Linked DNA regions of Homo sapiens. The protein of the gene in region 1 purifies or fractionates together with the protein of each later gene. This does not show direct contact. Each region holds a gene or a part of one and is shown on either strand. Other genes may lie near its edges.

What was found. The genes of interacting proteins can lie anywhere in the genome.
Region 2: the proteins of LMNB1 (region 1) and DDX21 purify together in Homo sapiens (affinity purification with mass spectrometry; 2 studies listed by BioGRID and IntAct, with this or other methods). This does not show direct contact.

Annotation. Positions count from the first base shown.
Region 1 is NC_000005.10:126,807,524-126,815,614, forward strand, and holds part of LMNB1 (lamin-B1), read left to right. Parts: intron 1-2,656; coding exon 2,657-2,827; intron 2,828-4,249; coding exon 4,250-4,375; intron 4,376-7,646; exon of another isoform or gene 7,647-7,724; intron 7,725-8,091. UniProt on the Homo sapiens protein: Lamins are intermediate filament proteins that assemble into a filamentous meshwork, and which constitute the major components of the nuclear lamina, a fibrous layer on the nucleoplasmic side of the inner nuclear membrane.
Region 2 is NC_000010.11:68,959,170-68,966,169, forward strand, and holds part of DDX21 (nucleolar RNA helicase 2), read left to right. Parts: intron 1-636; coding exon 637-1,080; intron 1,081-2,912; coding exon 2,913-2,988; intron 2,989-4,121; coding exon 4,122-4,300; intron 4,301-6,207; coding exon 6,208-6,325; intron 6,326-7,000.

The sequences.
Region 1 (8,091 bases):
AGTGGAATACTGTGTGTGAAAACTCTTTGGATACTGTAGCAAGTGCTGTCATATAATTGTTACTAAGTGTTGCTTTGTTAAAGCAGATATTTTGATATGAGGTTGACTTACATTTTTGTTTTGTTTTGTAAAAATTGTGATTTATCATTACTTATTTCTGATGTTGTGTGTAGACAACCAGGAGTAGGGTTTTTTTTCTTTGTAAGGTCACTGGTTCTATATAAAAAATAGCATCAGTAAAAAGTAATTTAATATTTTTAGAGTGCATAGCATCTTTGAATTTTTGGCCTTTGCCTTTTTGAGAATGGATGTTAAGATAGTCCTCTTCAGTTTTGTTTTTGTTTTTGTTTTTTTTAACTCTTTTTGGAGACAGAGTCCTGCTCTCTCGCCCAGGCTGGAGTGCAGTAGTACGATCTTGGCTCACTGCAACCTCCACCTCCTGGGTTCAAGCGATTCTTCTGCTTCAGCCTCTGGAGTAACTGGGTCTACAGGCATGTGCCACCATGCCCGGCTAAGTTTTGTATTTTTAGTAGAGACAGGGTTTCACCACATTGGCCAGGCTGGTCTCGAACTCCTGAACTCAAGTGCTCCATCTGCCTCGGCCTCCCAAAGTGCTGGGATTATAGTTGTGAGCCACCGCACCTGGCCTTTTTTACTTTAAAAAAAATTTTTTTGTGTGAGACAGAGTCTCACTCTGTTGCCCAGGCTGGTGTGCAGTGGTACGGTCTTGGCTCACTGCAACCTGTGCCTCCTGGATTCAAATGATTCTTGTGCCTCAGCCTCACGAGTAGCTGGGATTACAGGTTCACACCCTCACAACTGGCTAACTTTTTTTTTTTTTCCTTACTTTTTACTAAGTAATACCATGTTGGCCAGGCTGGTCTAAAACTCCTGGCCTCAGGTGAGCCACTCGCCTCAGCCTCCCAAAGTGCTGGGATTACAGGTGTGAGCCACTACGCTGGCCTTAACTTTTTTTTTTTACATTCATGATATATATTCAGTAATAATATCTAACTTCCTTATTATGAACAGTTGGGGGAAAAAAGGAAGGAGAAAGACGAAAGAGGAAGGAGGAGGTAGACAAAGAACAAACCATTAGCAGTCACTCTTCAGTATTTTTGTGATTTAGGTATTATTTGCTTCATGAAATAGATGTGATCTCTGGGAAGGTGATAGCAGAATCCTCCTGATTTTTCTGATTTTTCAGATTTTGTCAAGTGCATGCTCCTGTGTAGTAGTTAAGAGAAAGATGAAGAAATGCAAAGGAAAATACATGCGCTAATATACACAAACAGCAACTTTGGTGGGTTATACTTCCCTCTTGTGGCTTCTTCAGATATTACCATTCTAATTATTATTTTTTTTTTTTTGAGACGGAGTCCAGCTCAGCTGCCCAGGCTGGAATGCAGTGGTGCGATCTTGGCTCACTGCAACCACCGTCTCCCAGGTTCAAGTGATTCTCCCATCTCAGCCTCCTGAGTAGCTGGGATTACAGGCACCCTCCATCATGGCTGACTAATTTTTGTATTTTAGTAGAGACAGGGTTTTACCATATTGGCCAGGCTGGTCTTGAACTCCTCACCTCAGGTGATCTGATTGCCTTGGCCTCCCAAAGTGCTAGGATTACAGGCGTGAGCCACCGCGCCCAGCCTTCCATTCTAATTTTATTTAGACACTTCCTTAAAACAGAGTAAAGGAAAGGATCATGACAACTACTTCTATTCTTCAATGGTAAATTTTTCATAAATATTTGAGTTAGTCAACTAATATTGTTAATAAGATCCTGTGTCACTTGATAATGATAGCTTAATACCGGCTTTTAAAGAAGTCATGTAAATTAGCTTGTGCTGCCTATTATTATGTCTAAGAAAATGGTTTTATGGCTGGGCAAGGTGGTTCACACCTGTAATCCCAGCAACTTGAGTGGCTGAGGCAGATGGATCACCTGAGGTCAGGAGTTTGAGACCAGTCTGGCCAACATGGGGAAATCTCATCTCTACTAAAAATACAAAAATTAGCTGGGCATGGTGGTATGTGCCTGTAATCCCAGTTACTAGGGAGGCTGATGCAGGAGAATTGCTTGAACCCGGGAGGCGGAGGTTGTAGTGAGCTGAGATCATACCATTGCACAACAGCCTGGGCGACAGAGTGATACTCTATCTCAGAAAAGAAAAGAAAAGAAAAGAAAATAGTTTCATTTCACATAAATCTTTACATGAATTTATCACAACTGTTAAGTTTAACTTTCCATGTGCTGTTTTTTCAGAGATGTTCTTAAGATTATCAATGAAACAATTCAGAAAAATAATTTTTGCTTAGTGTTTAGTATAGTATACTGTGTATAAATCCTTGATTGCAGATAGTTTTAGTAGGCCATCCAGGCCTTTCCTTGGCTTCAGAAAAATAAATAGCTATGCTCCTGAAAAGGAATAGAAAGTTCCTAAGGCTTGAGATGCTACCACTTCTGTCATTAGTTCCATTTCAAAAACCTCAACTGAAAACTAAGAGGCAAAAAAGTGTTTATTCACATGACCGCCTGAGGACAAACAGGAGGAAGTTCGTGTGTAAAACTTCAGATGGCTGTGATGTCACTCAGATGTGTACCAATGCAGCCATGGTAAGTAGCTTGGCTTTATGCTTTTTGTTTTTTCCCCAGGAGATTAACGAGACCAGAAGGAAGCATGAAACGCGCTTGGTAGAGGTGGATTCTGGGCGTCAAATTGAGTATGAGTACAAGCTGGCGCAAGCCCTTCATGAGATGAGAGAGCAACATGATGCCCAAGTGAGGCTGTATAAGGAGGAGCTGGAGCAGACTTACCATGCCAAAGTGAGCTCTCTTCAGAAGATTCTTTTGAACACTTAAAATCATTACTTCACAATTCCCATGATGAACATGGCTTTATGTTTATTTTGTTCTAGTTTTTAAAAATGATTCCCCTAGTCTCCATGAAATATATAGAAAATTGATTTTTTCAAAAAAGTGCAGTTTTCTATAAACTAAATGTTATTAAAAATTACTAGAAGAATGTAGGGTTGTTGCAATTTTATTAGAGGTTAGGTTTTGTCTTTTTGTCCCATTGATCATTCGTACTATGCCATAGTAGTTGAACCCAAACCATGTGAAATAACTTTCTTCCAATAACAAGTACTGATCATGCTGTCCTACATAAACATCCATTTAGTAATGAATGAATGTCAGACTGCATTAGATCTCACTTTCATGTCATCATTGTGCATAGATTGTGACTACCACACTTCCGGCTTTTTTGCATAAGGGCCAAATGGAAAGTCTCTGCTATTTCTTCTTCTGTCACTATTATTCACTTAAAAAAATATTGTAGAAACTTCCCACTTATATTAGCTGACCTTACAAGAATTCATAAAAATCACCAACTAGTACAGGCTTTCCCTGGTAAATGATTTTGCCTTGTGTTTTAAATGTTACATGATTTGATTAAAAAGACTTTTTTGTGGTTGACTTAGAATATTAGAGTCACAGAGTTATTGAAAATTTTCATTGCATGGCTTTAAACTGTTCATGTTGCTTTTTATCTATTGTATGAAGTAGCAGTTAGTGAAAGTGAAAGATCTTATTATAAGCAGTAACTTCAGTTGTATAACATTTATCTAATATCACACATTGAGCTATACAGTGAAGGAGCTAAAGTAAGGATCCGTCACAGACTGTGGCCTCACAGGGAGCCAGGGAGGAGACACAGGAGCATGTCCCTGAGACACACATACACAATAGTGTTATGGGATTTGTATTTTACTCAAGGAGTTTTTTTTGCTTCTGAAAGGAAGTGTTTCTATCTGGTTTGAACGAATCTATAAACTAGTATTTTCTGCTTGTTGGTTTACATTCTGTATTGGATTTGGTGGGTTAGGGATATGTGATGTTTCTTTTCTTACAGACACCACCACAGTCAAGTTGCTATTGCCCAGTCTTCTTATTATCAGTGTTATCTTAGACATTAAAGGTTTAATAGATGAAATATTGAAGTAATAAGCTTTGGGTAAAGGCCTAGGTATATTAGCATTCTTAAAGCTCATTATTTAGGAAGTGACTCTAAAAGTCACACAGAATTACCATCATTCACACCATATCAGCAAACTTCATGATGCTTTTCCTGTGTTTCATCTACCAGTTACCAGCAGGACTTAGGTTTGAAATGCCTTGAGGTGAATCATGCTTCCTTTTTTGTTTCAGTTCTAGATAAGACTGACTATGCTTTGCTTCTTCTTTTAGCTTGAGAATGCCAGACTGTCATCAGAGATGAATACTTCTACTGTCAACAGTGCCAGGGAAGAACTGATGGAAAGCCGCATGAGAATTGAGAGCCTTTCATCCCAGCTTTCTAATCTACAGAAAGAGGTAAATAATCATCTTTCTGTAAGAAGTTAGACTTGAAGGCTACCTTCACCACGGGCACCTACCTGCTTTGCTTGGGCTGATGTCACTCCTCCCTCTGTTTGTTACAGAGGATGGTGTCATCCTGTGCTTTCGTCTTCACAGTACTTTTCTAGATTCGTTCATTTTGCATTGCATAAACATCCTGTGAGCAGATACTATTGTTCCTAATTAGTAGATTACACAGAGCTAAGGGACTTGCCCTTGAGGAAGGAGCCTGCTAGTTTATTCACTGTACTTACCCTAGGACCCGGATCTTCCGACCTGTCTAACAGCTTCATCTCTACAGAGTTATTCTCAACACCTTCCTTTTTTATATCATTTGAAAACCAAAATGAAGAAAAACATGCAAAAATTCTTTGTGGGTGGTGAATGCTTTGTGTTTCTAGACAAATTCTTTAGTGCTTAAAGTATATAACAATTAGGATCCAGGAAAGTAGCTTTAATTTGCATATTCCGATAAGAATTTAGTGACTCATTCATTCGTTGGTACGCCTAAGTGACAAATGGCATTATTGCCGGCTGTGTTGACTGGCTGCCTATCAGGGTGTGATGGTGTGCTTCAGGTGCTGCTTAAGCAGGCATGGACACTACTTCAGATCAGTTTTAGCCTAGGGTGATGTCAGTGTGGACACAAAGTACATATACTCCATATACTGCATTCAGAATGATTCAGCAATTAACTCGTCACCTTAATTATTTTGGAAATAACTTCCGCTTCTATTTTCCTCAAGGGAGGAAATCTTGTTTTGAATTTTCCACATGAGAATAAACTTTATTTTACTTTTTTTTTTTTTTTTTTTTTTTTCTTTTTGAGATGGAGTCTCACTCTGTCGCCCAGGCTGGAGTGCAGTGGTACGATCTCGGCTCACTGTGAGCTCCGCCTCCCGGGTTCACGCCATTCTCCTGCCTCAGCCTCCCAAGTAGCTGGGACTACAAGTGCGTGCCACCACGCCCGGCTAATTTTTGTATTTTTAGTAGAGACGGGGTTTCACCGTGTTAGCCAGGATGGTCTCGATCTCCTGACCTCATGATCCACCCGCCTCGGCTTCCCAGAGTGCTGGGATTACAGGCGTGAGCCACCGTGCCCAGCCTATTTTACTCTTGATTGGGCTTTTCTTCCTTCCTTTTTCTTTTTACCATTTTTAGTAAAATATTTTTCTAATTATAAAACTGATGACCTCTGTTGCAGGAACTTAGAAATAAAGCAGAAAATGAGTCCCATAAAATGGGGTGATATAAAATAATTTAGTTAACACAGGGGCTTTTACACTGTCTATCATGTGCTTTGTTACTTACGGCACAAATTTTTAAATTATTTTAAACCTATTTTGTGCTGATAGTGTTTTGAAGATTTTCATTTAATAGCAGAGCTGGAAGCACCTCTGAGTTCATTCCATGTAACCACAGATCTAGGTGAGTTTAATGATTTGCCCGTTGCCCAGAGGCTGCAGACTGATAAATGGGTTTCTCTACTCCTTCCCAGTTTTTCCTTTTATAACTCATTTTCTTCAAAGAAGATTTACTTTTAGAAATTTAACAGATAATCTTTTTTTCCATTGCACCATCTGTCTTAGTCCTTTTGGGCTGCTATAACAAACTACTATTGACTTGGTAGCTTATAAACAACAGATATGTCAGAAATTATTTCTCACAGTTTTGGAGGCTGGGAAGTCCAAGATCAAGGCACTGGCAGATTGGATATCTGCCTGGTGAGGGCTGTTCCCCGATTTATAGATGGTGCCTTCTTGCTGTGTCCTCACATGGTTAAAGGGTGAATGAGCACCCTTGGCCCTATATTATAAGGGCATGAATCCCATTCACTAGGGCTTTCCTCTCATGATCTAATTACCACTCAAAGGCCCTACCTCTTAATATCATCACCTTGAGGGTTAGGATTTAAACATGAAATTTGTGGGAACACAAACACACAGACTGTATCACTGTCTTTGTTTTTCTTGTTGTTTTTTTTTCTTCTGAGACAGAATTTCGTTCTTGTTGCCCAGGCTGTAGTGCAATGGCGCAATCTCGGCTCACTGCAACCTCCGCCTCCCAGGTTTAAGCAATTCCCCTGCCTTAGCTTCCCTAGTAGCTGGGATTACCGGCATGCACCACCACACCCTGCTAATTTTGTATTTTTGGTAGAGACAGGGTTTCTCCATGTTGGTCAGGCCGGTCTTGAACTCCTGACCTTAGGTGATCCGCCCGCCTCAGCCTCCCAAAGTGTTGGGATTATAGGCGTGAGCCACTGCACCTGGCCTATATCAACTGTCTTAACAGGTACTTTTCCAAAAATGGGCCTCTCTGTTCTTGTACTGAGTTGGCATTTACTACTCTTTTCCATTTACTAATAGTAAGTTGTCTACTAGTTACTGTCTATCCCTCAATTTTATTTTTTCCTACTGTATTATTATTTTTTTGGCTGCTGCCTAATCCATTTGATTTACTTAGTACAGATCTTCTCTTGAGGTTGATCTTCACTGTGCTTTGGATGAGGAGACTGTTATTAATAAGTAGTAGTGGGCTCTGAAACTTAGTAGCTATGTGTTCTAACCTAGGTTCAAGGCTGTTTCCCTGTTAATTGAATTCCCATTTTTGCAAGTTGGTTTTTTTTTTTTTTTGAGACAGAATTTTGCTTTTGTTGCCCAAGCTGGAGTGCAATGGCACTATCTCAGCTCACTGCAACTTCTGCTTCCCAGGTTCAAGTGATTCTCCTGCCTCAGCCTCCTGAGTAGCTGGGATTACAGGCACGCGCTACCACGCCCAGCTAATTCTTTGTATTTTTAGTAGAAATGGGGTGCACCATGTTAGCCAGGTTGGTTTCAAACTCCTGACTTCAGGTACTCTGCCTACCTTGGCCTCCCAAAATGGAAGGGATTACAGGCGTGAGCTGCTGCCTTAAATGCTGGGATTACAGGTGTAAGCCACTGTGCCTGGCTGCAAGTTTTTTTTGTTAACCTTATCTTAGTGGTTTTTAAGTAATGTTAGGCAGTGCACTGGGGGTTTCCAGGAGCTAACTCCTTAGCAGATAGGAGACGAGCAATCCCTTTAGCCAAAATAGTTTTTAATTTCTCTGGGGTGAATCTTTCCTCTGTTCATTATTGGTAACAGACTTTATGGTAAACAGTATATTTTGAGGAATATTTTTATTAGTTGATAAATTTTAGCCTTAGAAAAATCATCAAAAATAAAAATGTTATCTTTTTGAATATTTTCCTATTGTTTGTCTTAATAGTGTTTGTTGCTGAGTCATATCAGTTTCATCATGCTGCCTATTAGGCCATAAGAATTTCCTTTTGGTTAAATAACTCAGGTTAGTGAAGTACTTCTTAAATTTTACTTAAAATTGACATGGCTTTAAAATACTGGTTTTACAAGATATATTTAAATAATATATAGATGGTAGCAGTGTTATGTTTTGGAATTAGAAATTTTACATTGCTTATAGCATCTCTAGATTTTTGACTTGGGACCAAATGAATTGGTTGGTTAGAGTCTGCTTGCCTTAGAGAAGAGTACAGTATGGTACTTAAAAACACCTCTAACTTTTGTTTTTCTAACACCCAGATTCTGGAGACTTTGGTTGCAGCTAGACCTTAATAAACCAGTACAATTACATTACATACTATAAAATATTTAAAAACCCCAAGATCATCAGAAGTCATAAAATTTAGGGTTAG
Region 2 (7,000 bases), on another chromosome or scaffold:
GTATCCCATGAGCTTATCCAAATCCCTTATGAAAATCTGGTTTATAGGCCAAGCACGGTGGCTCATGTAATCCTAGCAGTTTGGGAGGCCGGAGTGGGTGGGTTGCCTGAGCTCAGGAGTTTGAGACCAGCCTGGGCAACATGGGAAAACCCCACCTCTACTAAAAATACAAAAATTCGCTGGGTGTGGTGGTGGGCGCCTGTAGTCCCAGGTACTCGGGAGGCTGAGGCATGAGAATAACTTGAACTCAGGAGTGGAGGTTTCAGTGAGCTGAGATTGTGCCACTTCACTACAGCCTGGGCGACAGAGCGAGACTCTGTCTCAAAAAAGAAAATCTGTTTTACAACTGTTTGACCCACATGAGTTGAATAGTTACTAAGGGGCACTCTTCATTTTCCAAGATAGTGAAACTATTGATATATACCCGTCTATATATATAGCTAAGAAGCGATTTTAGAAAAAGCTTACTATTTTGATTTTTACCTTATCACAGCATGAAAGTACAAATGTCGAAATGCCCCAAAATTGTATTTTTTAAAGTTGAAAATGATCTTGAAATAATCCAGAATTGATGAATGTTGCAAATGTATAAATGCCTTATTCAGTGTTTGTATTTTCCTTATGAATTTTTTTTAGAAAGAGAAAAAAGAGAAGCCAAAATCTGATAAGACTGAAGAGATAGCAGAAGAGGAAGAAACTGTTTTCCCCAAAGCTAAACAAGTTAAAAAGAAAGCAGAGCCTTCTGAAGTTGACATGAATTCTCCTAAATCCAAAAAGGCAAAAAAGAAAGAGGAGCCATCTCAAAATGACATTTCTCCTAAAACCAAAAGTTTGAGAAAGAAAAAGGAGCCCATTGAAAAGAAAGTGGTTTCTTCTAAAACCAAAAAAGTGACAAAAAATGAGGAGCCTTCTGAGGAAGAAATAGATGCTCCTAAGCCCAAGAAGATGAAGAAAGAAAAGGAAATGAATGGAGAAACTAGAGAGAAAAGCCCCAAACTGAAGAATGGATTTCCTCATCCTGAACCGGACTGTAACCCCAGTGAAGCTGCCAGTGAAGAAAGTAACAGTGAGATAGAGCAGGTACATTTGCACTTCATTGGGTAGAAGATATCTTTCATTGTTGTTTCAGATAAATAAGTAGGTAACTGCTATATGTACTCTTTAATAGTAGGAGAAAATGTGATGTGTCAGCACCTTGTGGGTTGGGGGATACCTTAGGCTGACTGGGACTTCATCTTAAAAATTAGCATACGACAGGGCATGGTGGCTCAGCTAAGAGTACTCTGTCTTTTTTATTTTTTTATTTTTTTGAGACAGAGTCTCGCTCTGTCACCTAGGCTGGAGTACAGTGGCACGATCTCAGCTCACTGCAACCTCTGCCTCCTGGGTTCAAGTGATTCTCCTACCTTAGCCTCCTCAGTAGGTGGGATTACGGGTGTGTGCTATCACGCCTGGCTAATTTTTTGTATTTTTAGTAGAGGCGGGCTTTCACCATGTTGGCCAGGCTGGTCTCGAACTCCCAACCCCAGGTGATCTGCCCGCCTGGGCCTCCCAAAGTGTTGGGATTACAGGCATGAGCTACTGTTCCCAGCGGACTCTGTCTTTAAAAAAAAAAAAAAAAAAATTAGCATAGTGTCACAATGCCTCCTTTACAAATAAGCAGATACTGCTTAAGCTTAGGGAGAGTCTTGGTCTGCTTATTTGCAAGTCAGTCAACAGAAGAGATACAGTTTTGTAAATGGGCCCTAGTTTCCCTCTGAGGGGTTTAACCAAATAAATTATTGGAATTACTGAAAAGGTTGATTGCATAAGTCCTTTTGGTTAGGCCATTAAGTAATCATCCTGGAGTTGAACAGGATGATAAAATGTCTGTCCAGAACCTAATTCTGTTATCTTTCAGAAACTCAGTTATGAAAGAAATACGAATTGTATTAAAAAAATTTGTTTTAGACATGGGATCTCGCTGTGTGGCCCAGGCTGGTCTAGAACTTGTGGCTTCAAGCGATAATCCCGCCTAAGCCTCCCGAGTAGCTGGGATTACAGGCACAAGCCACCACACCCAGCTGAAAAATACTAATTCTAATAGATTTTCTTTTTGCTATAGATCATGGTCAACATTTGTAACTTTTTTCCTGATTATAAAAAATATGTGATCCAGAGAAAATAGAAAATGCAGACATTTTGCAAAAAGAAAGAAATGCTTCCTGGAATTTCACCATTCATTTAGTAAATATTAATACCTGTACTTTTCAAGTACAGAAGTCATCTTGTTAATTTTTGGTGTTTCCTTGTAGTACTTTTAGTATATGCATCTATTATTTTTAATCAGATTAGGATTGTACTGTGCAATCTTGTATCTTTTTTGTTTCTAGCTAAGCATTTTCCTCGTTAAGTACGCTTAATGGTTACATAATCCTTCATATAAATGTCTTGAAATCTACTTACTACTTGTATTGAGCATTCAGATATCTTACTATCAAATAATGCCACAGTGACTGCTACCTCATAAAATGTTTGTTCATTTTCTATGGATGTGTGTATACAAGAGATGCTGCTTTGGAAGAGGGCTAATGACATTTCCATCAGTATATTGTTGATTATGGTTATGGAGTAGATCTTAGTTGAGATCTAGTCACACATAATCTTAGTTGAGATCTTAGTTGAGATCTAGTTACCCAGTATATATTTGCCTCAGATTTTTCTTTTGTTAAAGTTTTATAGATTTATGACAATGTTTCCTTTTCAGATCTCGAGTTACCTATCAAGGTTTTTGTATCTTTTTGGTTGATTTTTAAAGTGATGTGTTTAGAAGAATTGCTTTAGGATAGCTTGTTTTGTCTCTTTCTCAGAAGGTTCTCTATTAATTTGTGTAGGTGATTATTGATTTCTTTCTATGGCCCTTTACTTGATAGGAAATACCTGTGGAACAAAAAGAAGGCGCTTTCTCTAATTTTCCCATATCTGAAGAAACTATTAAACTTCTCAAAGGTAATGTTCTTGGAAATATCGTATGATGTTAGAACGTATTATTTTAACAGAAGCACTCCACTATTTTTGTTAAGATGAACCAGGATGTATTCTTATTGTAGGCTGATATATGCAGTCATATAATGAAGTAGGCCTGTGTATTCAATTTAGTACTATAGTAGTGATGGTTCTTCATGCTTCTTAAACAAGTGGTTAAAGCTTTTTCAGGCCCTCTGTGGTGGCTCACACCTGTAATTGATTGAGGCCAGGAGTTTGAGATCTTCCTGGGTAACATAGTGAGAACCTGTCCCGACAAAAAGTTTAAAAATTAGCTGGGCACGTGGTAACACACATCTATAGTCCTAACTACTCCAGAGGCTGAGGAAGGAAGATCGCTTGAGCCCAGGAGTTCAAGGCTTCAGTGAACTGTGGTCACACCACTGCACGCCAGCCTGGGTGACAGAATGAAACCCTGTCTCAAAAAAAATTGTATTTAATACAGTGTGTATTCAGAAGTGTATTGACTAATGGTGCTGGTGAAATTAAGCAATTAGGTGATGCCATATTAATGTTTTATCTCTTTCACTTCTGAGGCATCTCTAGATTAATGAGCCTAATTTATAGGCATAAACCCAGAATTCATTTAATAATCTGCTTCTGAAGTAGCTGGAGTCACAGTTACTCAAGTAGGTGCTTCCTAAATCAGGAGCAGCACAGTTGGATTGCAAAGCACCAGATTTTCAGGCTTATGGATGAGACTTCAAATATTTACTATAATTGGATGCTTTAAAGTTTGTTGATATTTTTCAGTCAAGCAGATTCTTTACTATCAGAATATTTCTGAGCCAGGTATGATGGCTTGCACCTGTAATCCCAGCTGTCCATCAGGCTGAGGCAGGAGGATCACTTGAGCCCAGGAGTTCAAGGCTGCAAGTGAGTTATGATCACACCACTGTACTCCAGCATGGGCGACAAAGCAAGACCTTGTCTCTTAAAAAATATACGTATTTGAGCCTAACTTTGTAGATGTTGACCAGAAGGTAGAATTCCTTAATTCTGCAGGACCAGAAGCATGAGTAGTATACTTCAGTATGTCAGTATGGCTAATGTTTTAAGAATTGCAGTGTGAGATAACACAGTTAATTTGTTCATAGGCCGAGGAGTGACCTTCCTATTTCCTATACAAGCAAAGACATTCCATCATGTTTACAGCGGGAAGGACTTAATTGCACAGGCACGGACAGGAACTGGGAAGACATTCTCCTTTGCCATCCCTTTGATTGAGAAACTTCATGGGGAACTGCAAGACAGGAAGAGAGGCCGTGCCCCTCAGGTAACTGTCTTAAATACAAGGGCTCTCAGTCAGCATAGGAAAAACCACCACTTGGGCATTGTGTACATACCCTACTATTTTTTATTGAGTTCTTATAGTCACCCATTCTATTTACTGTGGATCTTTATGTGAAAGTAATCCAGGACAATTCTTTTATATTTAATAATTAATATATACAGATCATTCTCTGTATATTTCAATATTTTAATCTTTCCCACAGTTTTGATCATCTATATAATTAATGCTATCATATTTCCTTCAAACCATTAGATGTCCCTGGGGCTCATAGCTTTCGTCAAGTGTCTGACCATTTTTGCCTAGATGGAGAAAGCATTTTTGGTAGAAAAGCATGAATGGGCGGTGGCTCACACCTGTAATCCCAGCACTTTGGGAGCCCGAGGTGGGCGGATCACGAGGTCAGGAGATCGAGACCATCCTGGCTAACAACATGAAAGCCCATCTCTAATAAAAATACAAAAAATTAGCCGGGCGTGGTGGCGGGCGCGTGTAGTCCCAACTACTTGGGAGGCTGAGGCAGGAGAATGGCGTGAATCCAGGAGGCGGAGCTTGCAGTGAGCCGAGATGCACCACTGCACTCCAGCCTGGGCGATAGAGCAAGACTCCGTCTCAAGAAAAAAAAAAAAAAAAAAAGAAAAGCATGAATGGAAAGAAGGGCAAGTCAGAGGTGAAAACGCCAAGCCCCCATATTAGGGTGAGTCCATTGGGTTCATTTCTAGAGAACTTGACATTTAACAAACATTAACCTCATTGAAATGACTGCGAATGCCCATGTAGTCACTTTGGCTGTGGGTTCTTGCAGTTGTCTTTCTGGCCTAACCTCACTTGCTCACTGGCCTTCCAGTGTCCATGCTCCCCCTTTGTTAATTTGTTTACTGCTATATCCCTAGCACATTTTAGATGAATGTATTAGGTGTTCTTGAATCATATTAGTTTCATACCATTACCCTATTTTTGAGGACCTGTAGCAGTTCAAGCAATTCTCCTGCCTTAGCCTCCCAAGTAGCTGGGATTACAGGCGTGTACCACCATGCCTGGCTAATTTTGTATTTTTAGTAGAGATGGGGTTTCACCATGTTGGCCAGGCTGGTCTGGAACTCCTGACGTCAAGTGATCCACCCACCTCAGCCTCCCAAAGTGCTGGAATTATAGGCTTGAGCCACTGCACCTGGACTTTTTTTTTTTTTTTTTTTTGAGACAAAGTCTCGCTTTGTCGCCCAGGTTGGAGTGCGGTGGTGCAATCTTAACCTCTGCCTCGCAGGTTTAAGTGATCCTCCCGCCTCAACATCCCAAGTAGTTGGGATTACAAGTGTGAGCCACCACGCCTGGCTCATTTGTATTTTTAGTAGAGATAGACTTTCACCATGTTGGCCAGGCTGGTCTTGAACTCCTGACCACCCACCTTGGCCTCCCAAAGTGCTAGGATTATAGGCATGAGCCATTGCGCCTGGCCAGCAGTTTCATGTTTTATATATATATAGATCAAATTCATATTGCTCTAGGATTCAAAGCCCCTTACATTGTTGGCTCTACCTTACTTCTCTGATTTTGTTCTGCTTCAAATTTTCTCTACTGTAGAGGTTAAGACTATAGGTTTTGGATCCCAATTGCTTGAAGGCTCTGCTCCTTCTTAGCCTTTGGGGTTTAGTCAAGTTATTTATCCTCTAATACCTAGCTCAAAAGGTTGCAAGAATTGAATCAGAATAATATATATAAAGAATTTAGTAGAGTCTCAGATCTATTAGACAAAAATATTAGATAATGTTATCGTCATCATCAGCGTTAGACCTTGTTCAAGTCGTTCTTTTCCTGGAATGCTGTTCTTTAAGGACTAGATTAAGAAACAAATACTACACAGTAATTTGAATTCAATTATTTTTCTTTATCAGGTACTGGTTCTTGCACCTACAAGAGAGTTGGCAAATCAAGTAAGCAAAGACTTCAGTGACATCACAAAAAAGCTGTCAGTGGCTTGTTTTTATGGTGGAACTCCCTATGGAGGTCAATGTGAGTACATTCAAAAAGTGAGGGAGGTATAATGCCACCCATTGTTGACTGCTCTGATTGGATTTCTTTTCACCTTGACATCTGGCTTCTCTATATAGGATAGTCGTTTATGGGGATTTTCTTTTGCCATTGTTTAAACATGGTCAAGAACATGGTCCTGCTTGATGATAGGCAAATCCTGTATATCGTTCTTAGGACTTTTATCTATTTATATTTATCTAGGGGCTACAAAAGTAATTTATTATTGAACCCAAAAAGACAGTCCATTTGGGCTCTAGGAAATAGGAAGTCAGAATTCAAGGTTCCTCTTGTCTGTCAGGACCTTGGGTCTGTCCCTCTTTCTGCATGGTTGCTTCTTTCTTGATGTAGGCAGGCTTTCTTTCCTTGGGGCTCAAGGGCCAAATGTTAGTCTCTACTCTTATATTCCATTACTTCCCAGTTCAAGGCCTTGGAGCTTTATTATTAGAGCAGATGTATAAATTAGGAAGGGATTTAAGGAATTTAAAAAAATCATAGTTTTGGCCAGGCGCAGTGGCTCACGCCTGTAATCCCAGCACTTTGGGAGGCTGAGGCGGGCAGATCACAAGGGCAGGAGATCGAGACCATCCTGGCTAACACGGTAAAACCCCGTCTCTACTAAAAATACAAAAAATTAGCCGGGCGTGGTGGCAGGCA